Regions from separate parts of the Homo sapiens genome. Here all the other regions are linked to region 3. Evidence: fine-mapped expression QTL. A gene starts in region 3. Each other region holds a variant in brackets. All regions are shown on one strand. Distances are between the middles of the regions. Region 1 overlaps LARP4B (La ribonucleoprotein 4B). Region 2 overlaps LARP4B (La ribonucleoprotein 4B). Region 3 holds the start of LARP4B (La ribonucleoprotein 4B). Region 4 overlaps LARP4B (La ribonucleoprotein 4B).

What was found. PIP is the estimated chance that this variant, and not a neighbour inherited with it, causes the effect.
Region 1: its variant is fine-mapped to the expression of LARP4B in whole blood (TOPMed, PIP above 0.99).
Region 2: its variant is fine-mapped to the expression of LARP4B in whole blood (TOPMed, PIP above 0.99).
Region 4: its variant is fine-mapped to the expression of LARP4B in whole blood (TOPMed, PIP above 0.99).

The regions. Positions count from the first base shown.
Region 1 is chr10:803,137-810,476 of GRCh38, reverse strand. LARP4B (La ribonucleoprotein 4B) reads left to right here. Exons shown (of 18, transcript NM_015155.3): 18 at 1-980. Among named protein-coding and RNA genes, the nearest start is that of DIP2C, 120 kb to the right of the region's middle. RefSeq lists enhancers at 182-682, 683-1,183 and a silencer at 920-1,125. The variant C/T (reference allele first, on the strand shown) is at 3,829.
Region 2 is chr10:841,278-848,617 of GRCh38, reverse strand. It overlaps LARP4B (La ribonucleoprotein 4B), which reads left to right. Exons shown (of 18, transcript NM_015155.3): 6 at 3,563-3,641; 7 at 5,550-5,686. Among named protein-coding and RNA genes, the nearest start is that of LARP4B, 87 kb to the left of the region's middle. The variant T/C (reference allele first, on the strand shown) is at 3,974.
Region 3 is chr10:928,805-936,144 of GRCh38, reverse strand. LARP4B (La ribonucleoprotein 4B) reads left to right here and starts at 4,440. Exons shown (of 18, transcript NM_015155.3): 1 at 4,440-4,717. It overlaps LOC124902363 (keratinocyte proline-rich protein-like), which reads right to left and starts at 4,154. Exons shown (of 2, transcript XM_047426111.1): 1 at 3,030-4,154; 2 at 56-1,309. The coding sequence starts at 4,018. The coding sequence ends at 3,314. LARP4B-DT (LARP4B divergent transcript) reads right to left here and starts at 3,119. Exons shown (of 3, transcript NR_120629.1): 1 at 3,030-3,119. RefSeq lists silencers at 3,860-3,949, 4,030-4,739, 4,810-4,919, 4,950-5,029, 5,120-5,249.
Region 4 is chr10:822,310-829,649 of GRCh38, reverse strand. LARP4B (La ribonucleoprotein 4B) reads left to right here. Exons shown (of 18, transcript NM_015155.3): 11 at 56-265; 12 at 3,780-3,886; 13 at 4,334-4,585. Among named protein-coding and RNA genes, the nearest start is that of LARP4B, 110 kb to the left of the region's middle. The variant C/T (reference allele first, on the strand shown) is at 2,846.

The DNA.
Region 1 (7,340 bases), 130 kb after region 3:
CAGTCGCCACTGGAGGGCTCTGCTGCCCTCCGGTCAATACACTGTAGTTACTGCCTAGCCAGCAGCAGTCTTCTGCATCAAGAACTGAAACGTTGCTCGGAGGTGATTTTTATAGCATCCTTTTTAATTAAAGGTGAAATACAGATTGCTATATAATGTCTGAAAAAACCTGATACTACTTCAAGAGTTTCTGCTCAGAAGAAAATGAGAGTTATCATAATAGGAAGCTGTGGCGGTCCATGCCAACTGTGCTGTGTCACATACAGCGATGAGAGTGGCTTTCATACTTTTTTTTTTTTTAAGTTAACACCCTCCTTTACCCCCAGCAGTATCTCAGGTTATAGAATCAGAGATGCAGCAGTGACAAATGGCATTTTAACTTGTAAAATCGTGTGATGATGCTTATCATTTTGAAATAGAAGAATAAAAACCTGGTCCCGTTTCACCAGACATGAATTTCAAGTGGAGTCGTCGTTCTCTGAGAGTGAGTGTCTTGACATTTTCACCCAGGCCCTCCTGTCATCACATCACCGGCTGTCACTGGCGGGTGGCCGTAAACGTCCTGCGTTGCTATATTAGGATCTCTGCAGTTCAGGCTTCAAAACCAGTTCAGTGTATCCGGGCGACGGGTAGTGGTGGTGCATGCCTGTCTGTGTGCCCCGCTGGCGAGCTGTAGTTGCGGCTTGCGTGCCTCGCGGCCCACTACAGGGCTGCAGACAATCGAGGCGAGGGCGCTGGCCGCCAGCAGCTCACAGCGCGGGGGTCATGTGGTCGCTCCTCGAGGGTTTCGTTTTTGTTCTGCTTCATTAAGACTGGAATCAAGCTTACATGTAAACTATTGGTAATTTAAGTTTCCTTTTGTGTCATTCAGTGTAAAACTGTCTAATTTGAAAAAAAATGTAGGTTATGAAAATAAAGATTTAGGCACTGTTCAATTTTTCTTTTGATTTTTTTTAAATTAAAATTTCTTCAATAATGCATCTTTTCTAAACATAGTTTTTTGTCTGTTCCCATAAGTGCATGAGAAAGAAACACGGGCCTCATATATGATTGGATCCTAAAGCCTTCTCACCTACGTGGGGGCTGGCTGTGGCACACGGGGCTCACCCTTTGTGTTTTAGTGGTTCAGAGTGAGCATTAACATCAGATGCTCATGCGGAGACAGCCATTACTGTGACTGCCAAGATGTACTGCAAAAATACATGTTCCTGTATCAGGACTTTGATTTTGTTAAAATGGCACTCTCTCCAAAGCTGTGTCCATGAAGCTGTTTGGAGCTAACGTTGGGTCTTCATGGTGATGGACTCATCCTTAGGCAGCAGTGATGTCTGCACTAGGAAGAGGCTGGCGGGAGGCGGGGCCCCTCCTGTGCCAGGCACCGAGTGGATGGGGGACTGATTAACATGTTGCTGCCTTCCTCCTCTGTGCATTGCCTTTTCATGTCGTCTTCCCATTTTTACTCTTTTTCTGATGGAATTAATATTCTTGATCTGTTAAGGCTATTAATCCTTTGTCATATATGTTACAAATATTTTCTTTCAATCTACCATTTGTCTTAACTCTTTATTTAGAATAGTATCTTTTACGGTGTTTAATTATTGTGTAGTAAAATCTATCAATCTTCTCCTTTGTTGAGTGTCTTGGACTTGCTTAAGAAGCCTTTCCCTACTCCAGGGTCATAAAGTTAATAGTGTGTGTGTATGTGTGCGTGTGTGTGTGTGTGTGCGTGCACACGCACACACACACACACACGCTTTTAATCCAGCTGGGCCTAATCGTGTGTGTGGTGTGCGTGCTTAGGCAGGAACCCAGTTTTACTTTATGCCATGTGGAAAGTTTCTTTTTCCAGTATCACCAGTGAGTTCACTGTCTCTCCACTGGTCTGCAGTGCTGCTTCTGTTACTTGCAGACTTCCCACGTGTGCATGGATCTCCACCTGGGGTCTCTAGGGTCTCTATTCTACACTGCCTATTTCCCTTTCTGTCCTAACACCATAGCATTTAACTCACCCGTCATCCTGTGTTGCTGAGAATTTCCTTCATAGAACTCATCAAAGTATGATTAACTGTGCTCCCTGAGGGCAGGAATTATGCCATCTGGATCACCAGCCTCTCCCTTGTCCTTAGCACGCCATCTGCAAATTAGCAGATACTCGGTAAATGTGTATTAACTCGAAGTATATTTTGTGTCTTCTCTGTGCACAGCACTGCCCTGGGAAGAACTAGGATGAGGTATTGACTTGCTGTTGCCACATAACAAACCCTGCCAGAACTCCCTGGATGGAAGTGACCACCGTGTATCTGTGGATTGTCTGCAGGGCTCTGCTGGGGTCAGCAGGTCCCACAAGAGAGCCAGGGCTCGGTCTCCTCATGGCTGTCAGAGGTTTACGTATTCCGCCTCCACCCACCAAAGTCTGAAGTTGTTGTATTCCATTCCTTGCTATATCCACATCTTTTAATAATGCTAAAATCCCGTGTTTCTCTAAAGCATTGGATTGAACCAACTGAAGAAGGACCACGTGTGTTGCTGGGCCTGCTTGGGCACAAGCCGTTTCCGATCCAAGTCAACTGCTGGTCTGCTTAGACGAAGGTGTGTGGGTGTCTCCACCACGGAGAGGAGGGACAGCAGGTGAGACCATAGGCCAGGAAGGAAGGGCACAGCCTAAGCGTGCAGTGGCTTAGCCAGAGACCCTCGTGCACCAGCCTTCAGGTGCTTATGGAACTTATGTCAGCCCAGGCCATATCCAAGTGTGTGATGTCTCGGAGCATATATGCCAGGCCAGCCGGAGAGGCTTAGCCCTGCCCTGGTGGAGCTGGAGGGCCGCAGGGCCGCCCGGTGGGGTCAGGAGGTTGTGAAGAGGATCCTGATACAGGCTGGGCCTCCCTGCAGGCGTGAGCCCCGGAGCACGGGGTGAGCAGCTCCACCCAGAGGGGCTTGCAGGACCAAGCTGGGACAGCAACCACCAGGCCCTGGGGCAGATCAGTGAGCGTCCAGGAGATGCAGATGCAGAAGACAGCCAAATTCATTCACCTCTGCGTGGGCCTGTGAGGGCCCACAGAGATGCATTTTCATTCACGACCAGGATTTCCTCGGCCGGAGCAGCCGCTTTTCCCAGCCGAAGCTCACTGTGTTTACTACATAGGATGTGAGTGTATAGAAAGACTCTCTCTAACGTTAGCTACGCGTGCAGAAATGTGGGGCGCTTACAAGTGTGGGCAGCCGCAGCCTGTTCCTCACCCCTGTCCTAACGGGACATACTCCACGCATGCACATTTAGGATCACCGTGTCTTCTCGTTGGACTGATCTGTCATTAGGACCCTGGACCCAAGTAATTGTCTTTGCTCTGAAGTTTTGACAGTAACAAAGGCATTCCAGCTCTTTCTTTTTCACTCCTGTCGGTGTAACGTGCCGTTTTTCATCCTTTGACTTTTAGCCCGCCTGTGCCCTGTCTGAAGGGAGTTGTCTGTGGACAGCACGGAGTGGTGGGTGTTTGTAATCCACTCTGCCAGCCTCAGTCTTCTAACTGTTGCGTATGGACCAATTACATCTGCCCTTTCTCTTCCCTGCTGCTCTGTTTCTTTTTTCTCTTTGCCTTCCTGGAGATTGTAATTTGCCAATTCTCAGTCCTCTCGTGCTCTCAGCTCCCAGTTGACCTTCTCCTGCTGCTGCGCCTCCCGTTTCCTGAGGCCAGTGGGGGCAGTGCCCTCTTCAGTGTCTGCCCTTTGCTACTGGGTAGTTTCTTCCAGGCCCACACCTTTCTACTTCGTGCAATGCCGCACTTTCCATGCCAGCTGAAATCCATCAGCCTGGAAGCACAGAGGCCGCAG[C/T]CTGGGCCCGGGGGCAGGTGCAATGTACTGTCCCCTGCAGAGGAAGGCAGAGCTCCATGCTGCTGTCGGGCCGGGCCACCGTGGTGGCAGCGTCCTTGGCAGGCAGCAGGAGTGTGCGGCAGCTGGGAGTGTTGCAGCCAGACATCTTAACCTCGGGGTGGGGGTGGGGAGACGAGTTTCTTTTTGTGTGGCTTTGGGAATAAGGAAACAAGTTGCCAGTAAATTGCACATCTTACTGGCTAGATTTAGGATCCAAACGCCGTCACGGGGAAGGGGCTTTCAGGTCAGTGAGGTCCATCCTGGGCTCAGGAGTGGGGCCACCTCCCCCAAGGTGCATGGTGACTGGAGAGAGGGGTCCCTGAACAAAATTGGGGCCATTAAGAAAGAAGGGGTAACTAATACGTCCACTCAGTACATTCGAGCTCCTCAGCCCCAGCCTGCTCAGCCTCCAGCCCATGTCTCACTGTGTCCTTGGCGTGGCCACCTGCAGTCAGTCCACATTTCAGATGGGACCACCCACCCTCCGGCCTGGATCCTCCTGCTCCTCACCGGAACCCCATCTCCACGGGCAGCCCCGACGCAGACAGGCAAGCCCAAATCCTGGGCCAGTCTTGGTTCTTCCCCAGATCCTTCCGAGAGTCCAGCCCGGCCATCTCGTCGCCAGTCTCCCTGCCCCGTTCTCCACCTAGCCCGAGGGTTCTTTTGTGGTAGTGAGCGCGCCCTGTTCCCTTGCTTTAAACGCTCCAATGGTTTCCTGCAGGAAGAAATAAGGTTTAGACGCGCGCCTGCAAGTCACTCCCCAACCCACCTGCAACTTCATCCCTGACCCCACACTCTCTGCCCATGCTGCCTGGGACCTGCTGGCCCCTTCCCGTGGAATTTGTTTCTCCCTTCCCAGAGATGCCTGGCGCCCTCTCCGACAGCCGCCTGTCCCCGGCTGCTTCTGCAGCACTGAGCACCGTTTGTAGTCGTCTAATTGGTCTACTTCTGGCGTGAGCCCCTTGGGCCTGGCACCCGTGAATGCTCTTCCCCTGGGTACCTGCAGCACCCCCTGGGCAGGGGACGCTTCCGGGTCCATTCCTCGCCCGGTGTCCAGACGCTGTGGACAGGTGCCAGAGGCAGCTCCGCAGAGGGCGCTCCGCAGAGGCCGCCAGGCCGCGTCCACAGCTCAGCCAGTGCAGGTTCAAGTCCCGGCTTGCGCGCCCCTCCCATCCCTGCGTGGGGCGGCCTCACCACGCACACCTGCCGCCGTCTGTGTCGGCCTCTCCCTCCATCCCTGCTTGCGCCCTGGATCCCCGTCCGCCTTTTTCCGCGCAGCAGCCCGGGGGTCCTTTGCATCCCCGCTCAAAAGCAGGGAGGCACCCACGCACCTCGCTCAGAGCAGAGACCAGAATCCAGGCGGCTGGCCGGAGGTTGGGCCCCGCGCCCTCGGCGTCCCCTGCACCCTCCAGGCCCCCCACGCGCCCTCGACCTCCAGCCGCCCCTCCGAGGCTCTGGAGCTGCCTCATAGGAAGTAAACCTAGAGGGAAAGGTCAGGAGGGATGGGAAGAGCCCCCGGCCACCTGGGAGACGGGGGAGGGCGGGAAAGAAACCATCAACATAGAGCAAGCCCAGGGTGGAGCTCACGTGGGTTCGTGGTGTTGACACTGCAAGCTGGAGAGGCGGGGAGAGAGGAGCCCGGGAGAGGAGAGGCAGGGTTCCTCTTTTAGCCAGAGGAGCCCAAAGTGACAGGAGGACGTGGCCGCAGCCAGGGTTCAGGGGCTCCAGCCACGCCGCACGCCGGGGATGTCACCAACACCCACTTAGGCCATGGGAAGCCATCAGCTTCCAGATTCTGAACACAGAGTTTTATGGTACCCTTGACAAGAGCAGTTGTAAAGAAGCATTTAAGTAAGCATTTTCCCCGGGTGAGGAGAATCGGCACAGCTTGAGGTGTGAGACACTGGTACTTCTGTGCAAAACCCGCCCTGTGGACAGTGGGTTTGTGGTATCCTAAGGCTGGGAAGGCATCTCGGAGGTTTTCTCCTTGCTGCAAAAACGCCTGTCACTGCCCAGGATACATATTTTGACCTCATCCTTCCTATTAGAAACTCAGGCGGTCCCGCCCCGTTGGCAGCCAGAGACCTCAGGGTGGCGCCTGGTGGAGGGACCTGCTGGGGAGGTTACCCTTCCTCAGGGCACCCACCATCCCCGGCGTAGGTCTACAGGGTCCTCCCTGAGGAGCCAGGGCCGGGCTCATCTGTGTCACATCATGCCTGCTGCTCTGCTGTCGCACTGGAGCGGCAGAGGCAGAGCCCGCCCCACCCTGCAGCTCCGTGTGACCCCGGCTGTGACCTCCCGGGTGGGTGGCCCTGCCGCAGGAGAGCCACTTTCAGAGATGCCCTGAGTGATCGTCACCAGCTGCATCCTGCAAACTTCATCTTGCTGTCCCTGTGGCTTGGAGAGCCCAGTCAGCTTTGCTTGTAAACATACATGTTACTTACAGTTGTATTTGGTCATGCCAGATGAAATTACTGTTTTTAGAGGTCAAAGTGAGCAAGTAGCAACTTTATATGGTTCCAGCTAATATTTATGTTACATTTATGTTCTGATGAAACACTTTTGTGCTACTGACCCATTTTTGTGGATGACTGCAGAAAATATACTGAAACTTAATGATGACAATGAAAACCTCAAACCTAAATGTAAAATAAAAAACATGAAAAAATGGTGGCAGAGCTCACCATCTTAAATGCTTTAAGAACATAGTATTTCTGTAAAAATCATGATTTTTACATTTCAAGTTTGTTAAATTTTTTGCTTCTTCCTTCTAAACTACAGGCGGCTCACCCACCAACCCTGTGTTCACTCCCACTGGCCACGAATGGGAGGGAAGGTGGCGTGGCCCCTCTGCACAGGACTGGCCCTCCCTCCCAGCAGGGCTGAGCCTGCAGAGGGCACAGAGTGAGCTGGGGGGTGCCCTGCCAGTGACTCAAGTTGGGAGGGGCCCTGCGTGGCAGAGTCTAAGGGGCCACCTGTCCTAGAAACATGCACATCTCGTGGGCTGCTAGTGCAGAGCCCCGAGGAGCTTCAAGGTGAGAAAGGCCAGAGCATGCTCCCAGCCCAGGACCGCCTCGGTGCCCACACCTCCCTTCTGTGCACAGACAGGACAGGGCAGGACAGCCGATGGGAGGTGTGGAGAGGTGGGGATCATGGGCCCTACCCGTCTAGACAGCAGGAACCTAGGTGGACCCTCCACGTCTCCAGGAGAAGCCGCCTTCGTTTCCTGAACAGATGGCCCCACCCTCGTGTCCTTCGCCCGCCTGACCTCTGCTTTGGCAGGAGGAGGTATTTCCTGCCCTGTTTAGATGCCATTCGAGCCCGAAAGACCGGACCTGGAGAGACAGGGCTCGGGGAAGACTGGGTCAGGGTGGGGAGGAGACAAGCTTCACGGTGTGCTGGCCGTTCCATGGGAGGAAAACCGCCAACCCCCCTCTTGGAACTGCCATATGGGCTGCAAGATGGCTGCAGCC
Region 2 (7,340 bases), 88 kb after region 3:
ATATCAGACATTGGAGTTTTCATCTCTATAAGTTTTTTCTTTTTTTTTTTTAATAACTTTTATGTCCTTACCTGACTTCGTGAACATATGGAATACAGTTATGATAACTTTTAACATCCTTTTCAGTTAATTTTAACATCTGTGTCAGTTCTGGATTGGCTTCTGTTGGTTGATACTTCTCATTGTCATGGGTCATATCTTCCTGCTTCTTTCTTTGCATGCATGGTAATTTTTGGTTAGATTGAGTTTTACTGTATTCAGGGCTTAGTATTTTTGTATTTCTTTAAATATTTGATATTTGTTCTGGGATGCAGCCAGGTTTCTTGGAAACAGTGTGATCCTTTCATATCTTGTTTTTAAGATGTTAGGTGTGAGTGGGACGGTGCTGTGTGGGGCCTGTTCCTATCACCGAGGCAGGGCTCCGGGAATCACAAGAGTTTCTGGTGGGGAGGGTTAACCATTTCAGGCTCTGCACGTGAATGACATATATTGTTATACTTCTGATCCCCTCAGGTGGTTCTTCCACGAGCCTTGGGTAGTTTCATCACATCCGTGCTTTGCAAAGAACCTGGCTGACAACGTGATGGGTCCTGGGCCCTGTGGTTCTCTGGAGCTCCTCCTGCTGTCTGGCCTATGCAATCAGCCTCCCTATCTCCTGCATTCTCTTTTTCTCTTCCACACAGCCATACACTGGGTTCCCACCTGACTTCCCACTCCCTGGGCACAGCCTGGGACTTCCCTCAGGGCAGTGGGCTGGACTTGTGGGGGTTACTTTAATGTCTCATGTCAAGCTGGGCACGGTGGCTCACGCCTGGAATCCCAGCACTTTGGGAGGCTGAGGTGGGCAGATCACGAGGGCAGGAGTTCGAGACCAGCCTGACCAACATGGTGAAACCCTGTCTCTACTAAAAATACCAAAAAAAATTAGCTGGGCCTGGTGGTGTGCGCCTGTAATCCCCGCTACTCAGGAGGCTGAGGTAGGAGAATCACTTGAACCCGGGAGGTGGAGGTTGCAGTGAGCCAAGGTTGCAAGATCGCGCTACTGCACTCCAGTCTGGGTGACAGAGCAAGGCTCCGTCTCAAAAAAAAAAAAGAAAAAAGTTTCATGTCACATAGGAATCTATGTCCTTTGTTGCTCTATGTCCCACATCTGGAAAACTGTCATTTCATCTGTCTTATTTGGTTTCTTGGTGGTTTTAAAGGGAAAGTTAACCTAGCCCCTGTGACTCCATCTACCTGGAGGCAGATGGCCTGTGTCTTACCAACACCATGTGCCCAACCTCCAGTCTCCCTGAGAGCCCGTCTCACTTGTCATTGTCTTTGCTCCTCAGTGTCCTCTGTCTGCAGTGCCGGGTGTTTCTTGCATGGTTGGGTCACTCCCCATCTTTCTAAGGTGGTATTATCTCTCATCTTAGGTGAAGCCACCCCGGGCAGCCCATCTTCCACTGTAGAACACTTCAGCTGTCTGCTTGCTGTCCCATCTCCTTGCTTCCATTCCCTCTTGAGTGCAGTCCAGGTCTCCTTGCTTCCATTCCCTCTTGAGTCCAGTCCAGGTAGACAGTTGTCCTAAGCAGCATTTGTCGAGCTCTTTAATGACCCTGGTGCAGCCAGATCTAGTAGTTAGTTTCAACTTCTTAACTTACCTGGCTCTACTGTGTCATGTTATAGTGGATGATTCTCTTGGCTCCTAACTTCACAGTATCCTAGTGGTCTTCCCACCTTGCTGGCTGTGAGCCTGTGTCCCTTGGCCCTCATGCGCTTGCCTCCTGCTGAAGGTGGGAGTGTCCCGGGTTCAGTCCTGGGCTGCTTTTCTTCCTTCCCTTGTGGCTTCGGCACCACCTATCGCTTGGAGAGTCCTCCCTAGTGCCCTGTCCTCAGTGATTGCATTATCTTCCGGCTGGTGCCTGCACAGTCTGTCTACACCATGGAACCAGAGAGATATTTTCAAAATGTCAGCCTTGAATTGATTTTCTATTACGTTTAGGTTACTTTAACGTCCTCCTTGATCTCACTCACACACACCGGCCTCTGTGACCTCATTTCTTACTGTGTCTGTCACCCCTCTTCTCAGCTGTGCTGGCCTCCTACTGCTGGACTCTACCCCTTGAGAGGCCCCACCTTGGGACCCCTGTGCTTGAGGCTCCCCATTTAGAACACACTTCCCACCTTCCTGTGTGCCCCACCCCTCCTCTATCAGATCATATGGCACTTCCTGTCTGGATGGCACCAGGCCTTGCTGCCCCTCATCCTGGGTTGTTTCCTCAGTGTCCGTTTCTCTCTGACATGATGTGTATAGTTACTGGTTAACTGTCTGTTATCTGCCTCTCCCACCAGAGTGTTGGCTTCACGAGAGCACAGGCTTTGCGTTATTCAGGCTGAATTCACAGAGCCTGCAGTAGTGCCTGGCACTTGGAAATATTTAGTAAATACCTATTAAACATGGGGAGTGGAGTGTGAATTTAGATGAGTGACCCGGAGACACCTTAGTCTAGATGGACAGTGGCATCAGGTTGTGTTTTCAATTTTCCATTTTCAGTCTCATTGAGTCCCATGATTTGGTTTTGTGTTATGGTTACTTTAGCAGTTTTGGTTTCTTTTTGCTGATGGGGGTGGATTTTTACTAAGCTCATTGTATAACACCATACAAACTCTCTATCCCTCTCATTTGTCCTGAACGCCCCACTTTGTCTTTGCCTTTTCATGGTCTTTAACTTTGACTTTTAAGATACAAGTGTCTCTTGTGTTAGCATGGCTCTTATATGATTGTACCATGCTAATTTATATAGGAAGGCAGGAAAAACTTAGTTCTTAGCATTTCAGTGCCTGTCATCGCAACATTATTAAAATACCTCTTTATGCAGTGTCCGGAGTCCAGCAGTTTATGCAGTGTCTTCTAGAGCTCCAAATTCACAGCCCTGTGCTGCCTGTGACCACACACACCATGCCCTCTGGCATCTTCTTAGAAATTTCTTCCAGGATTTAGAACCAGCTTTTGTTTCCTCTTGAAGATCTGGTTTATTTATCATTCTCTTACAGGAATTCTGTAACATGACAATTCTCACTTGTTCCTTCGACTCTGGAAGTTGGAAGGCAAATTGAAGCCTCTGTTGTAGAAACTGTCTAGTCCTAGAGCCTGTTTGATCTCCAGCCTTGGTTTTTTGCTGGTTATCTTTGTTGTTGTTGTTTTAATTTTTTCCTCTGTATTTTATTATTGTTTAGGGTTTGTGTTTGTGTAGGTTACTTGAAAATTCTTTTTGCAGTGAGACAAGGCATTAACTAAGCTTACACTTGTCATTTCTGGTAGAAAAAGCCCCTGCTGAACTCTGCTAATGAGACTTAGATTATTTTTCTAAACTGTGCTGTTTTTGTTTTGGGGGATAAAGGGATAGGTTTTTTTGCATGATTTACTTTTTTGATAGGTAAAGTAGCATTTTTCTTACTTAGGATACACTTACGTAGTTGTGTCAGAACGTAAGTTGAAAGCATTAGAACTGCTGTACTGAATTATCTGCTTCCTAAATTTTAAGCCGGTTTTCCTAAGTTGATTATTACTTTTATGTAGGAGGAAATGAGTCTCAACCAGACAGCCAGGAAGACCCCCGAGAAGTACTTAAAAAAACATTGGAATTCTGCTTATCTAGGTAAGGCTGGTGGTGGTTTTTCTAGTACCTGATATTTCTAGTATTGTGCAAATAGTTAAAGTATATACAAATGTGATATTTTATGAAGGAGTATCTACTCATATCCATATATATGTATATGAAGACGTGGAATATTGAGTAATGACAGTCTTTTGACATTTGAGCATGGAACGTAACCTTCATGTCTGTGGTCCCCAGTGGTCTCGGTGGTCACTGTCTGGAATGCGTCTAAAGTGCCCCGCCCGCCCTGTGCTGCCGAGTCAGACTTCCTCACACTGAAGTTGGAGAACAAGTGTGCCACGTTGTTTCTGAAAGCACACCAGACACTGAGA[T/C]AGCAAGTTGTTTTATTTATATAACACTCATTTTTAATCATTTTTCTTTCCCCTGAATAATACCCTTTTCTTAGTAAAACCTTTAAAGTTCCAATGGCAGAACTGGACATAAAGGAGGATGGGATTGGGTTTGATGTAATTTCTCTGAGTATGACAACAACCGATGGGCCGTGTATAAGGTTTTCTGTCGATGATGATTTTCCAGGTGTTTTCTCTGGAGCCCTGAGGATTCCACACAGGTGTCTGCTAGGGGCTCCTTGAAGCCTGTGGGGTGTATGAGGTGGAGGTGTGAGGGGCTCTGCTGGCCTCCTCCCCATGCCCATGCTGTTCCACGATTGGAGTCTGAGAATACCGCACCATGACATGGTAGACGCAAAAGGTGCAGGGGCACCAGTGGAACGCCCTAGTGGAGCACAAGTGTGAGCTCTCTGCCACTCACATCCATGTGTAGCCCCATGGGGCCAGAATCAGCTACACCTGGAAGATGGCCGAGATGAGGGTGGAGCAGGGCCTCCTCCTGCATGGCCTCCGTTTGATCGGCAGTCATGGGCCTTCACCGAGGGACACTGAGCAGAGGCCCCAGGAACCCAGCACTGTGCTCAGTTTTGAAATGTTTCTTAGGGCCTTGTTCACTACATTACATGATGCCTTGAGAATTCACAGGAAACATTGATCTTTGGCCAAAACACCAGAAAATAGCTCATCATGGCCCAAACTGCTGATGATTTGTGGCTCACCTTTGGATTTTGTGGGTAAAGTTACTGTTTCCTTCTTTTTAATTCTGGCTGCTAGGAAGCCAGGGCTGGATATAGGCCCTCTGGTGAGTGTTCCAGAGTCTACAGGAGGAATTTTGGGTATGACCTTATCCTGGCCTTTTTATGTTTTCCTTTCTTGTTCATTGAGCTGGATTTCTTTACTTTAAATTGTTTTTCTTTCTTTTTTTTTGAGTCAGAGTTTCACTCTTGTCGCCCAGGCTAGAGTGCAGTGGTGTGATCTTGGCTCACTGTAACCTCCACCTCTCGGGTTCAAGCGATTCTCCTGCCTGAGCCTCCCGAGTAGCTGGGATTACAGGTGCCCGCCACCATGCCTGGCTAATTTTTGTATTTTTAGTAGAGATGGGGTTTCACCATGTTGGTCAGGCTGGTCTTAAACTCCTGAACCCAGATGATCTGCCTACCTTGGCCCCCCAAAGTGCTGGGATTCCAGGCGTGAGCCACCGTGCCCGGCCTAACAAAATTGTATGCATTTTTAATAAACTCTTAAGCTACTTCTTAGGACAAAAATGACAGCTATAAATAATTACATCTTATTTAAAAATAACCATCTTCTCATAAATTTTGATTGTAGAAAGTACAGTATACTTTTACTTTTGCACTCCCTGCCTCTCCAAGGCCGAGATTTTGCAAAAATGTACCTGAGGCTGGAGAGACAGCAAATAACAGATGGGTCCTGGGCTGAGATTTAACTCCAAAGCAATACCATGCCACACTCACGCCTCTTGTGAAACTGGAATTACAGTAGGTGAAACTTCCTTTTAAAGAAATACTGATTAAAAGAGATTGTTTTCTTTCAACAGGGAGAACCTTGCTAGTGACATGTATCTTATATCACAGATGGATAGTGACCAGTATGTGCCAATCACAACGGTGGCTAACCTCGACCACATCAAGAAGCTCAGCACTGATGTGGACTTGATTGTGGAAGTGCTAAGATGTAAGTAAATGACAATTTAAATTAATAATACTTGTCCTTAGAGTATTTGTCTTATCAGCATGAACCTTTAAATCTATAGCCATCAAACGTTAAGGTCCTTGATGGCGAATCAGATTCTTTTCTGGCCTTCCGTTCCTTTCTGCCCAGGTCCAATAATTCTGGAGTAGCGCCTGATAGTCCCTGGGAATGCCAGTTGAACCCGTTATGAAACCTCAAACAAGTTTTGGGACATATGAAGTAGAAAAGAATCTTGTTAATGGGGATTTTAAAGATAGCTGTTTCATTCATGAAAAACAAAATAAAAATAACATTTATAGTTAAAGTAAAATACACTTTAGTTACAGTTTTACCACTAGAGGTTTTTCTTTCAAATTGCAACTTCCTGTTTATGTTCGGATGAAATAATTATTGCAATTTTTCTTAAAATTATGTTGTGGGCCAGGTGTGGTGGCTTACGCGTGTAATCCCAGCACTTTTGGAGGTCGAGTTGGGCGGATCATGAGGTCAGGAGATTGAGACTGTCTTGGCCAACATGGTGAAACCCTGTCTCCACTAAAATACAAAAAATTAGCTGGGCGTGGTGGTGTGTGCTTGTAATCCCAGGTACTTGAGAGGCTGAGGCAGGGAAATCACTTGAACCCAGGAGGCGGAGGTTGCAGTTAGCTGAGATTGTGCCATTGCACTCCAGCCTGGCGACAGAGATAGACTCCATCTCATAAAAAAAAAAAAAAATTATGTTGTGAGTGAAGTTGTTTCTTTGAAGTTTGGCAACATCAAACAGTGTTTAAGCATTAAGTGTGGATGGTGCCCCTACATAGTTTTGAGTGATTGGACATTGCTAAGCCTGACTTCAAGTCTCAATTAAGTCCACTGCCTATACTCACATAGAAGGGTTTTCACGTTGTCCCTGGCTTATCTGTACTGACGACAGTCTGTGCAGGTTTTTTTTTTTTCTTGTATGAATTTGACTTTACAGTAGTATAAAAAAGTGAGCATCTTACATGAGAACTTAGTTGGATTTTCTTTTCACAAATAAAATATAAAATAAAAGTTTTATGTTTTTCTGTTTTTAGACAAATAGCATGGGTTATTAAATTATTGGAGACAGTGAAAAAACTGACAAACATAATTACCATTGACTGTGAGTTCTGAGAGCGGCACTGCTGTCTCCCAGGATGGCGCCGTGCTCCCTGGTGTCATCATGCAGAACAGAAGCTGTTGTCTGTGCCAGCTGAATTGGGCCCCATCTTTGAAAGGCCAGCAGCATTCTTGTCCCTGTTTGTACTCTGAAGTCTTTTTGGTTATGATTAGGAGTTTCAGGTTTAGTTATTCCTTTTCGGACAGACCTTGCAAACGCTGCTGCCCCACTGGGATGATTTCTCAGTTGATTGTTACTGGCAAGGGGTCGTTTCCACCAACCATGAGGATATTAAATTGCTCTGTGTGCTTGCTTAACAGAGCCCACCTGCCCATAGGCGATCCAGGGCAGGCTTGTCACCTATTTCGTCCCATCTCCTCCCGCCTTTTTTATGACTTAACTTTTATCCATTTGCACTGAGCTCTTTAGTTTCTCATTTTGTCTTTTTTCACTCGATTTTTGGACAGAAATGTACATGCCTTTGTAAGAACCTATGTGACAAGAATATAGTTAGCA
Region 3 (7,340 bases):
TGGGCAAAGGAATAGTCCTAAATCATCAAAAATGAATTTTTGAGCAATGCGGCTACACATTGGAGAAGTAGTGTTTATTTTTTCACAGAAAATGCTTCGGGATAAAATAAAAGAATGTTCACCTGTAATCCCAGCATTTTTGGGAGGCGGAGGCAGGTAGATTACTTGAGGTCAGGAGTTCGAGACCAGCCTGACCAACATGGTGAAACCCTGACTCTACTAAAAACAAAAAACAAACAAAAAAAAAAAACAACAAAAATTAGCTGGGCATCATGGTGCATCCCTGTAATCCCAGCTACTCGGGAGGCTGAGGCAGGAGAATCACTTGAACTCGGTAGGCGCAGGTTGCAGTGAGCCAAGATTGTGCCACTGCACTCCAGCCTGGGAGACAGAGGGAGACTCAAAAAAAAAAAAAAAAAAAAGAAAAGAAAAGAAAAAAGAAAAAGAAAAGAATGTTCTCAGACACCACTTGAAATGTAGGCCTCTGCTAGAGAAATACACATGCTGTATTTGTTTGGTAGAGACTTTGTCCCAAGATCACTGCCCTCGCTGCCTCTGCCCTTGAGGCCTGACCATTTCTTTGGGATGACAGTAGTGTCAGCTGAAAATTGTATGATGTGATGTAGCTCAACAGAGCTACAAACAAGTGCTAATAATAGGGCCCAGAAGGAAAATCAACTGTCTAAAACACTTCAGTGGTTGACATTTGGGCTGTAACTTGAAAAATAAGCGAGATTCCGCCAGAAGGAGACATCCAAGTACAGGAAGCACATTTGAGGCCAGGGGACTCACATCCATTAGGACCTAAGTGCTCAGGCTCCAAAAGAATGCCGCCCTCGACTTCCAGAGCAGCGCAGCGTCTGGAGCTGGGGCACCTCTCCATTTCTTTGTATAGGACTGTCCACACTATGAACTGTGGACTTACCTGTCAACTGTGCAGTCTGGAGTGTAAAGTCTGTATTTTATTCAAGTGTAGACTCATCAACTCCCTCAATACCTTCAAAAATGCTCGGAAAGTGAGTGTGATTGGAAGGTAAGGATGTCTTAGGATAAGGCAGGAAAGGAAACACAGGGGGCTGGGCTGAAGACAGGCTGGGACTAGCGTGTGAAGGGTCTTCTTTCCACAGGAGAACTTGGACTTTATCCTCCTGGGCAGGCAACGGGGAGCCGGTGAAGGTCGCATTGCAGGAGGATGGTGATGAAGCTTTTTAAGGAAACATGTGCTGGCACTGTGAGTAATGGACTGTAGCAGAGACCAACCGCGACGCCACTGAATCAAACCAGGTGAGCAGTAACAACGGCAAAACCACTGGGGGGACGGGGAGAAGGAAAGAGTTTTTAGGTAGGATTGACAGAATTTGTAACCACTTGACATGGGAAATGAGGGAGTGTATCTGATCATGGTTTGAGAAATTTATACTAAAGTTTTAAAAAACTGATCTTGTCTAAGGAGAGATGCCATGAAAATGTATTTCATGTTATAACCTCACATCTCAAGGTGAAAATGGATGTTTCTTCTGAGACACAGGTTTGAAAAAAAGAAGATCATGAGGGAACAAAAAGCCCAGTTCTGATTGTTGGAAAGGATTACACAATACGAAGAGAAAGAAGAGATGGAATTCTTTTAGTTTTAGTTTTTTTCTTTTTCTTTTTTTGAGACAGGGTCTCGCTCTGTCACCCAGGCTGGAATGCGGTGGCACAATCACAGCTCACTGCAGCCTCAACCTCAAGCGATCCTCCCACCTCAGCCTCCTGAGTAGCTGGAACCACAGCCATGCACCACATGCCCGGCTACTTTTGTATAATTTTTTAAAGAAATGGGGCTTTGACATATTGCCCAGACTGGTCTTGAACTCTTGGCCTTGGGCGATCTGCCTGCCTTGGCCTCCTAAAGTGCTGGGATTACAGGCATGAGCCACTGAACCCATCCCATTACTTTCTTTTGTAATAGGTAAGACATAGATGTCTGCTGGAATGTAGACATAGACAAAAAAGATTGAAGTTTAACCTACCAGCCGGGAACGGTGGCTCACGCCTGTAATCCCAGCACTTAGGGAGGCTGAGGCAGGCGGATCACGAGGTCAGGAGATCAAGACCATTCTGGCTAACACGGTGAAACCCCATCTCTACTAAAAATACAAAAAATTAGCTGGGCGTGGTGGCATGCGGCTGTAGTCTCAGCTACTCCGGAGGCTGAGGCAGGAGAATCACTTGAACCCGGGAGACTGAGGTTGCAGTGAGCCGAGATTATGCCACGGCACTCCAGCCGGGGTGACAGAGGGAGAGTCAGTCTCAAAAAAAAAAAAAAGTTTAACCTACCAATTTTGGGGCAGAATTCCTAGACTTATACCACATCAATGGCCCTAGCAATGTTATGAACCAAGAGTAAGCTCCTGTAGGTTATCCGTGGAGGTAAAGGAACCAGGCACCTAAGCAAGGACACTATGGCCTACTGGTCAGGGCAGGTTGTCCAGGTAAGCAAGTTTTCTGAAATATGTACATGCTTTTAATATTAAAGGAAATGTGTCTTATGTCGTTAAATGTTCTTTAAAAACATTACTATGAATATAATTATTTAACTTGCAAATTCCCTTAAAGCTAGGATGCAACAAGGTTTCACAAAGAAGGCACCCAACCTTGATGTCAACAGTCTACCCACTATGGGAAGCCGGAGAGGCTTTCTTCCAAAATGCAGAATTGTCAGCATTTGAACGCTGAGTACGAAAAATTATAAGCACAGGCTGGGTACACCGGCTCCCATCTCTAATCCCAGATTTTGGGGGCCCGAGACAGCACTCTGAGCTCAGAGTGCAGACCTGCATAGAGCAAGACCCTGTATCAAAAAACAAAATTAAAAAAGCAGTTGTAAGCACAGGTACACGGTTAACCATGAATATGGTATCCCTGAAAAGCCGTTTTAATGGGGGAACAAACCTAAAATTTGGAATAATTGATAATATGTGTATATGTAGCCAATCAGAGCAGAAACCAGAAAATCAGGCAGCAAGCTTAAGGGAAACGCAACATACTTTGTTTGGTTTCCTTTTCTTCCATAAACTGATCAGGGGTAGGTAGAGTATGCTGCTATAGTTCGGAGTCGTCACCATCCTCACGGAAACGGCAGGAGTGTGAACACCTCCCTGAGCTACCAAGAGCATCTGACTCGTTGCAACGTGGGCCCGAACCCAGCGCCTCTAGGAAACGTGGGGCCGGGGCCTTTTGGTCCCGGGTGTGGGTTGGGGGTTTGGGGAAGGGCCGGGGCCTTGATCCCAGGTGTGGGGTTGGGGATTCCGGGGCTGAGCCGAGGCCTTGGTTAGGGGTGTGGGGCGGGGGTTCGGGGCAGTGCCGGGGCCTTGGTCCCGGGTGTGGGGTTGGGACTTCGGGGCCGGGACCTTCGTCTCAGGTGTGGGGCGGGAGTTCGGGACAGGGCTGGGGCCTGGGTCCCTGGTGGGGCGTTCGGGGCAGTGCCGGGGCCTTGGTCCCGGGTGTGGGGTGGGAGTTTGGGGCAGGGCCGGGGCCTGGGTCCCGGGTGGGGCGTTCGGGGCAGGGCCGGGGCCTTGGTCCCGGGTGTGGGGTGGGAGTTTGGGGCAGGGCCGGGGCCTGGGTCCCCGGTGGGGCCTTCGGGGCAGGGCCGGGGCCTTGGTCCCGGGTGTGGGGTGGGAGTTCTGGGCAGGGCCGGGGCCTTGGTCCCGGGTGTGGGGTGGGAGTTCTGGGCAGGGCCGGGGCCTTGGTCCCGGGGGTGGGGTGAGGGGTTCGGGGCAGGGCCGGGGCCTTGGTCCCGGGTGTGGGGTGGGAGTTCGGGGCAGGGCCGGGGCCTGGGTCCCGGGTGTGGGGTGAGGTGTTCCGGGCAGGGCCGGGACCTTGATCCCAGCTGTGGGGTGGGAGTTCGGGGAAGGGCCAGGGCGTGTCCTGGGTGGCCAGGGTCGGGGCCTGGGTCCTGGGGGTGGGATGAGGGGTTCGGGGCAGGGCCGGGGCCTTGGTCCAGGGTCTGGGGACAGGCTAGGGCCGGGGTCGCCATCCGTCCTGGGCGGCGGGCAGGGGTCTTTAAGGGGCGCACGCGGTGGCGGAGGACCAGGGCCCAGCCCTCCGGAAGTCAGGGCCCACACGGCCCCCCAGCGTCAGGCGCTCCGGTCGCGCCGGGGACGGCGGGCGGGGCGGGCGGGGCGGGCGGGGCGGACGTGCGGCGTGCGCGGGGCGGGGCGATGTGCGCGCACGCGCCAATCGCAAGGCCGCGAGCAGGGTGTACGCGCGGAGAGGCCAAGAAGGCGGCGGGGCGGGCCGAGCGTCGGGTGCGCCCAATCAGCGCGCCGCAACACCATGACGTGAGGCTCTCCCGGGGCTGAGCGCCAGTCCGCGGGACCGGCGGGTGAGTGCGCGAGTTCAGGGCGCGAGGCGCGGGTCCGCGCGGGGGCGGGACTTCCGCAGGGCCCCGGAAGTGGGAGCTGTGTGTTCTCATGCGAACGGGAAGGAGCGTTGGGGATCTGGAGTCCCGGGGTTGAGACATTTTCGGGCCCGAAAGGGGAAGAATCCGCCGCCGCCGCCGCCGCCAGCTCGCGCCCGCCCTCTCCCCTACCTCCGGCCCGGCCCGGCCCGGCCGCGCCGCCTCTCCCTGCCGTCTCTCTCCTCGCCGTCCCCGCGTGTGGCGCGGCCGCCGGGCCCCGGGGTTGAGGCGAGGAGCCCGCGGGCGGCCGGTCGGGCGGGGCGGCGGCGCTGACAGGTGAGGCACCCTGGGCCGCGGCGGGCCGTCCCTCCCGGCCCAGCTCGGACCCGCGCCGCGCCGCCTGTCACTGCGCCGCCATCTTCCCGGAGGACGCGGCCGCGGCGGGCAGGGCCGGGCCTGGGCCGGGGCCGGGGCCGGGGCAGGGGAAGGCCGGGGCCGGGTTGAGGAGGACCGGGGCTAGGGCACGGGAAGGGCCAGGGCTGAGGAGGACCGGGGTCAGGGCCAGGAAAAAGCCGGGGCTGAGGAGGACCGGGGCCGGGGCAGGGGAAAACTGGGGCTGAGGATGGCCGAGGCCGGGGCAGGGGAAGGCCGGGGCCGGGGCTTAGGAGGACCCGTTGAGGCGAGGCGGGAGTCGACGGAGCTGGGTGCCCGGAAGACCGGGCCGGGGTCAGGGTCGGGAGGCCGGGGTTGGGCGAAGGCCGGCGAGGACGGGGGTCGGGCAGGGCCTGGGCGGGGCCGGGGTCGCGGGCCGCGAGCGCCCCCAGGCCGGGCGGGCGCCGGCACCCGCAGTGCGGCGCCAGCCTTGCCACTCGCTCCTCGGTCCCGCCGGAGCCCGGATAGGCGGCCGTGCGGGTGCGGGGCGGGACGGGTCATCAGGGCATCGCATTCCTTTAGAACCAGGAAGTTGGGATCCTGTTGCTCGGTGTGTGTTTGGAACGCTCCTGTTTTCCTGTTGATAGACTTGAGCAGAGGTGGATCTGAAGGAGTTAAAAAAATAAAGTCAGATGTGAAGATTGCCTGTGTTGGTCTTGGGGCTGGGATACATGGGCGGCAGAGAAGCCATCGGAAAGCTGCTGCACCTGCCTCTCAGGGTGCGCTTGGGAACGTGAAGAGTCTTTCCGTTTCAGTGCCGTTGTGCGTCGAAACTTCATGCGAATGTAATTTTGCTTTTCCCCTTATTTTTACGTAAAACGTTCTTAAAACTTGGCTGAGATGAAACTTGAGAAACCTAGCTGTAGAAAACTACCTCCTATCTGGCTTTCGTTTGAGATTCTCTAAGTGGATGCCCAATAACTTGTCTTAATAGTAAATTGGAAGTTTGAAGTTTTGGATAACTGAGAAAACAGGAAGGTTTTCCTTGACAGGGCAGTGGAGTTTGTAAGTATAAACAGTATGCGTGAGGCCTTTTTCTAGAGATGAGAGCAACTCCAAGGTGAACATTGAAGGGGACAGACAAGTTATTTTCCCTTTCGAAAGTTTTTTTCTCTTAGTTTCAGTTGTTTGAATATTTAAATGCACTTGAAATAGGTGCTGAGTTGTAGTTTGTGAAGACCACAGTGGGGAAGAGTGGTGTCCTCTTTTTTCTTGGTGGTCAGGTGGTGTGTGCAGTGTGCAATTTCCATACTTCCCCAACCTGCCTGGCGCCCCTCATTACAGTCAGGGTAATTTACAGAAGTTGAAATCGTTGTGGCTTTTCAGTTTTTTCTCCTTGTATTTAATATGCTGAAAGGCAGTTTTGTAATCAAACCATATAAGAAATAGCTTAATTGAGGTTTGCTAAGTGAAATGCGTTCCGAAAGGCATCAGATTAACAAGCTTATTATTTAATCATAAATTTAATTTGTGTACTTATCTTTGAAACTTGCATTGGTTAGAAATAAATTTTATCCGGTATTTTGAAAAGTTAATGTGAGTTGAGTTGACTTATTTATATGAAACAAAGGCATGGCTTATTCATTAGAAGTTACCCTCGTGTTGCCTACATTTTCTCAATTGTAACAGGGGGATGATGATAATCTCATTTTCTTAGGACTGTTGTAACACAAACATGGAAATGTTGTCTGGTTTTGCTATTTTCACTATTACTGATTTTTTTCTTCCCCCCCCGAGTTGGAGTCTTGTTCTGTCACCCAGGATGGAGTGCAGTGACACGATCTCAACTCACTACAACCTCCACCTCCTAGGTCTTCAAGTTATTCTCCTGCCTCAGCCCCCCGAGTAGCTGGGATTTACAGGCACATGCCACCACACCTGGCTAATTTTTGTATTTTTAGTAGAGACGGGGTTTCAGCATGTTGCCCAGGCTGGTCTCGAACTCCTGGCCTCAAGTGATCCACCTGCCTTGGCCTCTCAAAGTGTTGGGATTACAGGAGTGAGCCACTGCGCCCAGCTTACTGAATTTTTAAAATATTCTACCTTGTAGCTGTCAATCTATTAGCAGAAAGTTTTGTTTTTGTTTTTGTTTTTTTGTTTTGTTTTTTTTGGCTTGTTTACACATGTATCTGGGCAGAGAAAACAGCTTCTGAGCACAGAATGCATATTTGGAGAAAGCAGTTCCACTCTTTTTGAGTAGGAACCAGACAGAAAAAAAGATAACATGGGTACTATTCTGTAGAAGAGTAGCTGAAATTAAGTGGCAGCAAATTCAGGGAGAAATGTAATTTGGTTTAATGTTCGGGAAGATTGCCATTTTTAAAAGTGAGATTTAAAGAATTTATTGAATTTAATGCAATTTCCATAAGTAAGCACAAGTTTTGACAAGTATATATTTAAGGTGTTTTTATGAAGCAGTCTTCACATTATCTTAAAATGTAGTTCTAAAATACGTGCAGGCTGGGTGAGGTGGCTCATTCCTGTAATCCCAGCACTTTGGGAGGCCTAGGTGAGTTTAGGAGCCCAG
Region 4 (7,340 bases), 110 kb after region 3:
TTTGCAAATTGATGTTCTTAAGTATTCTAATAGAAACTTACATATTTTCAAACAGGCACGGATAAAAGCAAAGGCAATAGCTATAAACACATTTTTGCCAAAGAATGGATTTAGACCCCTGGACGTGAGCCTGTATGCCCAGCAGCGCTACGCGACGTCGTTCTACTTCCCTCCCATGTACAGCCCCCAGCAGCAGTTCCCCCTGTACAGCCTGATCACTCCCCAGACGTGGTCAGCAACGCACAGCTATCTTGACCCACCCTTGGTACGTCATTTCTTTACTAGGAATTTATGTTGTAGACACTATGCTAGATAATTTGAAGGATTAAAATCCTCATCTAATAGGAAGCCAGATATGTGTGCAGTCTGACATACTAAAACAGACCTTCAAGTTATGTGGGGGATTTTAAATGTAGCTGAGAACAGAGCTTATGCATAAAGAACTTTGGATTGCTGTGAGCACAATCCTTGCACAGCCCGTCTCCCCTCTTGTCATGCAGCTCTTAGCAAGACGCAGAGGGCGATAAGTGCTGTAGTGTACCTGGCGTCCCCTACACAGAGTACAATGCAAGGGGGATTAACTGAGGAGGAAGAGGTGTTTAATAGGCTTCTGACAGCAAGGCCAAGGAGAAGGCCTGCTGTTTTACCAGCCTTATTTTACTCACTTCTCACCAGCATTAGAGTTGGTCGACAGGATTAATTTTTATGGATTTTGGCCTTTGTTAAGGCCTATGGTTGGAATTCATAAGTCTGTACTGGATCTAGACATTGTCTCTTTGTGTGCTGCTATAGATGCTTGAAAGATCAAGTGCATTCTGGGTGGGAATTAGCATGAGTTTGGTGGCATTGGATGCACGAGAGTCAGCAATACACGGATGAGCATGTCCTTGAAGCTGAAGTCTAGTTGAGAAGTGAAGATGGGTTCATGGCCTAGAGGTTTGCATGAGGTAGCAATGCAGGTTAGTTGGAATTGGAGAGATTGAAGGGTAGCATACATAGAAGGTTATGGTCAGAAAGCAGAAATTGAGTTAGTAACTTTGAGAAGAGTTCATGTCCAGGGTTTCGCTGTGGACTAAGGGAAAGACTGAGTGGTCCTCAGGGTCGGATGGCTGGGAGCCAGGCACCCTGATGTGCAGGGATGTCACCGCTGACAGGCAGAAAAGGAGGGTAGGTGCAGAGCAGAGAGAACTTGAGAAAACAAGTGCCTGTATACACGGAAAGTAAAGATACGGGTCCATGAAACAACTCAGGCTGGAAAAGTCAAACATGCCAAGGAGACACGTGTACAGAATGCCAGAACACTGACAGGTCTTATCAGGGATTGTGTTGTCATCTAGGTTGAGCTTTTCAGGTTAAGTATGAGTTTTTCAGAAGGAATCAAAGAGAAGTTTCATGAACAGAAGATGGTCGTAGATTCATGGGTGTCTGAGCTGAAGCGTACACCGGGTGGCAGGGAGTTGGGGAACGAGCTGGCAGTTTCCAGGCCTAACTGCGCAGGTGCTTAGCTGTCCTGAGGCATGTGGGCTTTGGCCTAGTGCTTGTGGGAAGGTGTCTGAGGTTTCTAAGCGGAGAAATGAAACCATACTCCATTTAGAAAATAGCTCCTAAGGCCGTGTGAAGGGCAGGTGGGGACAGGGAGAGATTTTCAGAGGACCCCAATTCCCCCTGAGTCTGGAACCACCGCAGTGTAAGAACCTTTGGTAAAGTTACTTCTGTCTCTTTTGAGTAAGTCCTGATGGTAAGAAAAGTTTCTGGCTTTTTGAAGTAGCACATTCTATAAAAGTGTACCCATAGCTGAATACTTCGTTTTCCCAAAAGCATATCATGAGAGAACCTCAGAGAGACTTGAGTCCGTAGGCTCTGGGTGTTGAAGAATCATCGCTGCACGTGGCTTGCCATGCTAGTCCTTTCAGTTCTTCCTGCAGCAGTTGCTTCTTCCGTTTCTTTAATCATGGTTGACCCTCTCGGGGATCCTTGGGGTTCTGGGTCAGCTTATGGCCTTGACTTATGTTGTATGTTCAGGTTGCGGTGTGTGCCAGACAGCTGGTCCTGCTCTGAGTCTGTGATACTGGGGCTCTCCATCGCAGCCTTTTACTTGTGCTAAAACATGTGCGTCCTTTGTTCTGCAGCTGAAGAGATTGTGCCTATTAATCCCCAACAAGTAATAATAGGAACGCATTAATAATCAACTTTATTTTTTATATATGACCAATTTTATTTTTTATCTTGAGCAAAATTACTGGAATATCAGGGCTCTGTCTGTAAAATGACTTGCTGGAAATGATTAGTCCTCATTGCTCTGCCCATGATTTACAGCCTCAGATCCAGGTCTGCATTCATGGCTCTTCAAGTGTGATGTATTTTCTTTTTCTTTGAGACAGAGTCTCTCTCTGTCGCCCAGGCTGGAGTGCAGTGGCCGGATCTTGGCTCACTGCAAGCTCCGCCTCCCGGGTTCACGCCATTCTCCTGCCTCAGCCTCTTGAGTAGCTGGGACTACAGGCGCCCGCCACTACGCCCGGATAATTTTTTTGTATTTTTAGTAGAGACGGGGTTTCACCATGTTAGCCAGGATGGTCTTGATCTCCTGACCTTTTGATCCGCCCCCCCTTGGCCTCCCAAAGTGCTGGGGTTATAGGCATGAGCCACTGCGCCCGGCCATGTGTGATGTATTTTAAAAAGTCCGATTCTTACAGAGTGAAGAGTTTCTCAAGTAGCAAATTGAAGATTCTAACTTCCCTTTTGTATGATTTTATTTTAGTCCTAAGCTATAATATTCTTTTTCTGTTATATCTTCCAGTTAGCTCTAATTAAGGAGAATTACTTGCTTTTTTCCTTTCCTTTCTCT[C/T]TTCCTCCAAACAAGGAGGGCTCTATGCGTATCTCTGTCACTTTAGTGACATTGAGGGTGTGGACTGGAAGGCCCTCAGGAACTAAGTGCCCTGTGTCAGGAGCATAAGGAGCGAGATATCAGTGATGCAGAACGTATTGGAAACCATGGGTCCAGAAGCCAGAGAATTAGAATGAATGGTCTTGAGTTTTGTTTGTTTGTTTGTTTTTAAAGGAACTGTTTTAACAATAAGTTTTATCTTATTTTTGTATGTGTCTAGATTTTAAAAATAGTTGGCCGATACTTAAAATTCTATGCTCAATATTTTTAACTACTTAAGATCTTTTAGGGGTTCTGTGACCCTTTCTAATTTCTTCTGAATCTTATGTTAGTATATTTGCATGCCATACTTACCTTGTGACTTGGGGAATAATGATGATCTGAAAATACCCTGATCTGCAGAGCAGGACTTGTGTCGGGGTAAAGGTAAAGGCCCTGTCAGGCTGTGGTTGGATGAAGCCGAGTGAGCAGCAGTGGGTGTGCAGGTGCTCCTAAGATTGAGAATGTTGATGAGTTGTATTAAAGCCATCAGGAATCAAGAACTGTTGACTTCCTGCCAGTGATGGAGGTCGTATCAGACTGACATGCTAAAGGTTACAACACTTGTTGGAGCCCATGCGCTCTTGACCACGTCTTTCCTCTCAGTGCCTGCTTCCGCATGTGTCAGTTCTCCTCGCTGGATTGTTGTAAGGATTGGCTGAAAGGATGCACAAAAGCTCCAGCCTACTTCTAAACAGCACCCATTGGTGATAAAATTGTAAAATACATGTCTCAGCATGGGTCATGACTCTGACAACATCAAGAAATGCCCTCAGTTTCCACAGATTTGTTGGTATTAATGAAATTGAAGTCTGTTTTATGGTTTATTTACTTGTCTGTTTTCAAATGAATCTAGGTAACTCCATTTCCAAATACTGGATTTATAAATGGGTTTACGTCTCCAGCGTTCAAGCCTGCGGCGTCTCCTCTGACTTCTCTCAGACAGTATCCTCCTCGAAGCAGGCAAGTTCCGGGGCGGTCTTAGCAGTTTTGGTCTTTACGCTACTGCCCTTCCGGAGTTGGGATGAGAGAGCTTTGATCACTAGTCCTGCTCCTCGCAGACAGAGCCACCTGAAGCACACAGCTGCATTCTGTAAAGACTAAGCACTACAATCTGGCATGGGTGCCCGCCTCAGATTCTCTGAGAGGAGGCTTTGGGGCAACTTGTACACATCAGGTGTGCCTGATTTTAATTTGGGCCTGGACTGAAAAACAGCTAAGCAGAATTGTGGCACATTGTTAATAGATTTGCATTATCCTATATGTTAGGAGTTAACCATTCCAAATCCTATTTTTATACTTTATTAAACAGAGAGCAGATTTCAGCTTAGCTATTCCATGTCAGTATGCATGTTATGTAATGCCTTGATCATTTTATAACTCAACACATAAAACCATTTTTATTTACAGGAATCCTAGTAAATCTCATCTGCGGCATGCGATTCCTAGTGCAGAGAGGGGACCTGGGTTATTAGAAAGTCCTTCAATATTTAACTTCACTGCAGATCGATTAATTAATGGTGTCCGGAGTCCACAAACAAGGCAAGCAGGTCAAACTAGAACACGGATTCAAAACCCTTCAGCATATGCCAAGAGAGAGGCTGGGCCTGGGCGTGTGGAGCCAGGCAGTCTCGAATCCTCTCCTGGTTTAGGGAGGGGAAGGTGAGTTGTTGAGCAGTTACTGTGTAACATCATAAACTAATATTTTAAAAATTATTTAATTTAGATATGTTTTGTAATTGTCTTTAAATATGTCACAGAAAATCTAACTGAAGGCTATAAACATAAGGGTTTTATATAATTGCTAAGACTTAAATGGCTTCATCTTTTTTGGAATATGAAATGGTTCAGTGAGAACTGTAGTTGTTTTAGATCATTATTTGTAGAAACACTGGAGCTCAATAGCCATAGACTCCATCCCATGTGCCTGCAGTCTCCTCTTGGCAGCACCCCTGGCTCACCAGGCCCCTCTGCAAGGGCGGTGTCCAGGCTCTGCCCCATGGCTGCTGGCCTGGCGCCCTCCAGCTGGGTGTGCACCAGGCACTGCAGGTGGAGCCTGGAGCGGGTAACCAGGCAGATCAGCATTGCAGTCTCATCTCATTGGAGGGTTGAGACTAGCCAGGACGGGTCTTAGCTGTGCTTCCTGCCCACCATTTTTGGTTTTGTTTAACATTTTTTTGGCATCAATCCTGTAGTAGGTTTTTGTTTGTTTGTTTGTTTGTTTGTTTGTTTTTAAGACAGGGTCTCACTCCGTTGCCCAGGCTGGGGTACGTTGGCATGATCATGGCTCACTACAGCCTTGAACTTCTGGGTTCAAGCAATCCTATTGCCTCAGCATGCTGAGAAGCTAGGACTTCAAATGCACACCACCATGCCTGGCTAGTTTTTAAATATTTTGTAGAGACAGGATCTCGCTGTGTTGCCCAGGCTGGTCTTGAACTCCTGGCCTAGAGCCATCCTCCTGCCTCAGCCTTCCATAGTGGTGGGATTACAGGCATGAGCCACCGCACCTGCCCATTGTTGATAAGGCCAGTTGATCTTCTCAGTCCTTGCCTTGGTAAGGACCGTCAGGATTTTCCTCTCATAAGTGACAAACAAGTGACTCAAATACCTGAGCTTTTTCAGGGTGTTCTATATACAATGTGTACAGCACCATCCCTGACGTGCAAGCTCCTCTTCCTGCCTGCCACAGTGCACACCCTCTGTGCAGTGAGAATTCAACATGAAGAGGCATCAGAAGCATCTCATTCCTGCCCATAATGATTCAATGAGCACATAGGAGTTCCTGCAGGGATTGTGCAGTGGCATTGGAAGGCACCATGGTCTGGGAGAGCTGGCACTGGCCTGTGTCTCACAGGAAACATGGCATCAGGTTGGCTCAACAGGCCTTGGAGATGCAAAGCCAAAAGGGGCCCACCGTGTCATGGAGAGTCAGTGACTTCAGGGAGCAGTTGCTAGCCCTGGGTCTCAGTTTGGGGTTCTTAAGACCCAGACGCTTGGAGGGAGGAGGGTTGCAGAGCTGGGGCTCAGACTTGGGACAGAGCCCTACTCATCAAGGCCATGTGGCTCCCTCTGAGGGGCATCAATTGTGGGCACGGTGTGGAAGGAGGCAGACTAGATGGACAAGGCCCCCCGGCCTCAGCCTCCTGTGCTCTTCAGTGTGCCTTGTTCATACGAGCGTCACAAGGAGTTTCCTGGCAAATGAAAGTGGGGCTTGTTGAATTCCAGCTACCTCACAAAATGTATACAGGTGGCTTTGAAGCTGAGAGTCCAAAGCTTGCTGACGAATGTGGTCTACCCAGGATACCCTTCAACAATACTTGAACTTCCAAATGCAACTGTAACAAGTTTATGCTTTTGCCTGACAGATGCAGATCTTGCACCAATGGAGACCCTCTCTCTCCCCACCAAGGGAGGACAACTGTCCTCCCACCTGAGACCTGAGCACTGCGGCAGGGAGTGGTTTAGGAAGCGCACACCAGCATGGGCACGGTGGGCAGGGAGTGGTTTAGGAAGCACGCACCAGTGGTTTAGGGAGTGGTTTAGGAAGTGGTGGGCAGGGAAAGCGCATGCAACTCCTGCAGCCTGTTTCTGCGATGGGTTCTGAAGCCAGAGCTGACCTTCGTAACCTCCTCCTTCCCTCTGTCTTGAGAAAGAGCTTGTGCTGTTTTGCAGGGAGGTGTGCCAGGCCTTGCTTGCCCTGAGAACCTGATCCACAGCAGCCATGCCTCCACCTCCCCTTTTTGGGAGGGTTTGTTTTGTTTCCATTAACTTTCTCTATTGGACCAAAGTGCTAAGATGTCCTGGAGAACCCCTTACCAGAGTCCAGACACATGTCCCTACCCTTGCATGGCGGCCATGGCAGGGCACGGCCCAGCTGGGTTGAATGGCATGAGGAGCCCCAGGCGCCAGGTGGCTGCCTTGGTGGAGCTACTGTTAGGATCAGCTGGGGGAAGCACACCTCTTCAGGGTCTCAGGCCTTCACACCACTGCATTCAGAGTCGCGGGTGTCACAGTGATGTTTCCTCTATGGTGCTGGGACCACCCTGGGTCCCTTGCTACCCCTTGTGAGCTGTAACCCACCATGGCCCTGTCACTGAGCCTTGGCTCAGCCAACCTGCTCTCTGCATGATGGGCACTGACAGCTGACAGTGTTCTACGGCTGCAGGTGGGCTTCTGGGTCTGACACGGGTTACGTGGAGCCCAGTGAGGGTGTGGGGGAGTGTTGGCTGGGCCCACTGATGGTGACTGGGATAGGACCCCATGGCAGGCAGGTCTGTGTCCTGGACACCGCTGTGTTCCAAGGGATGGGTGCCCCTGCGTCCCAGCCGGTAGTGACGAGCAGGCTGCCCTTGGCGGAGGGATGCCCTGTGCCGAGCCCTGCGGGATGTCCTCTGCCCATGTGGCTGCTGTCCCT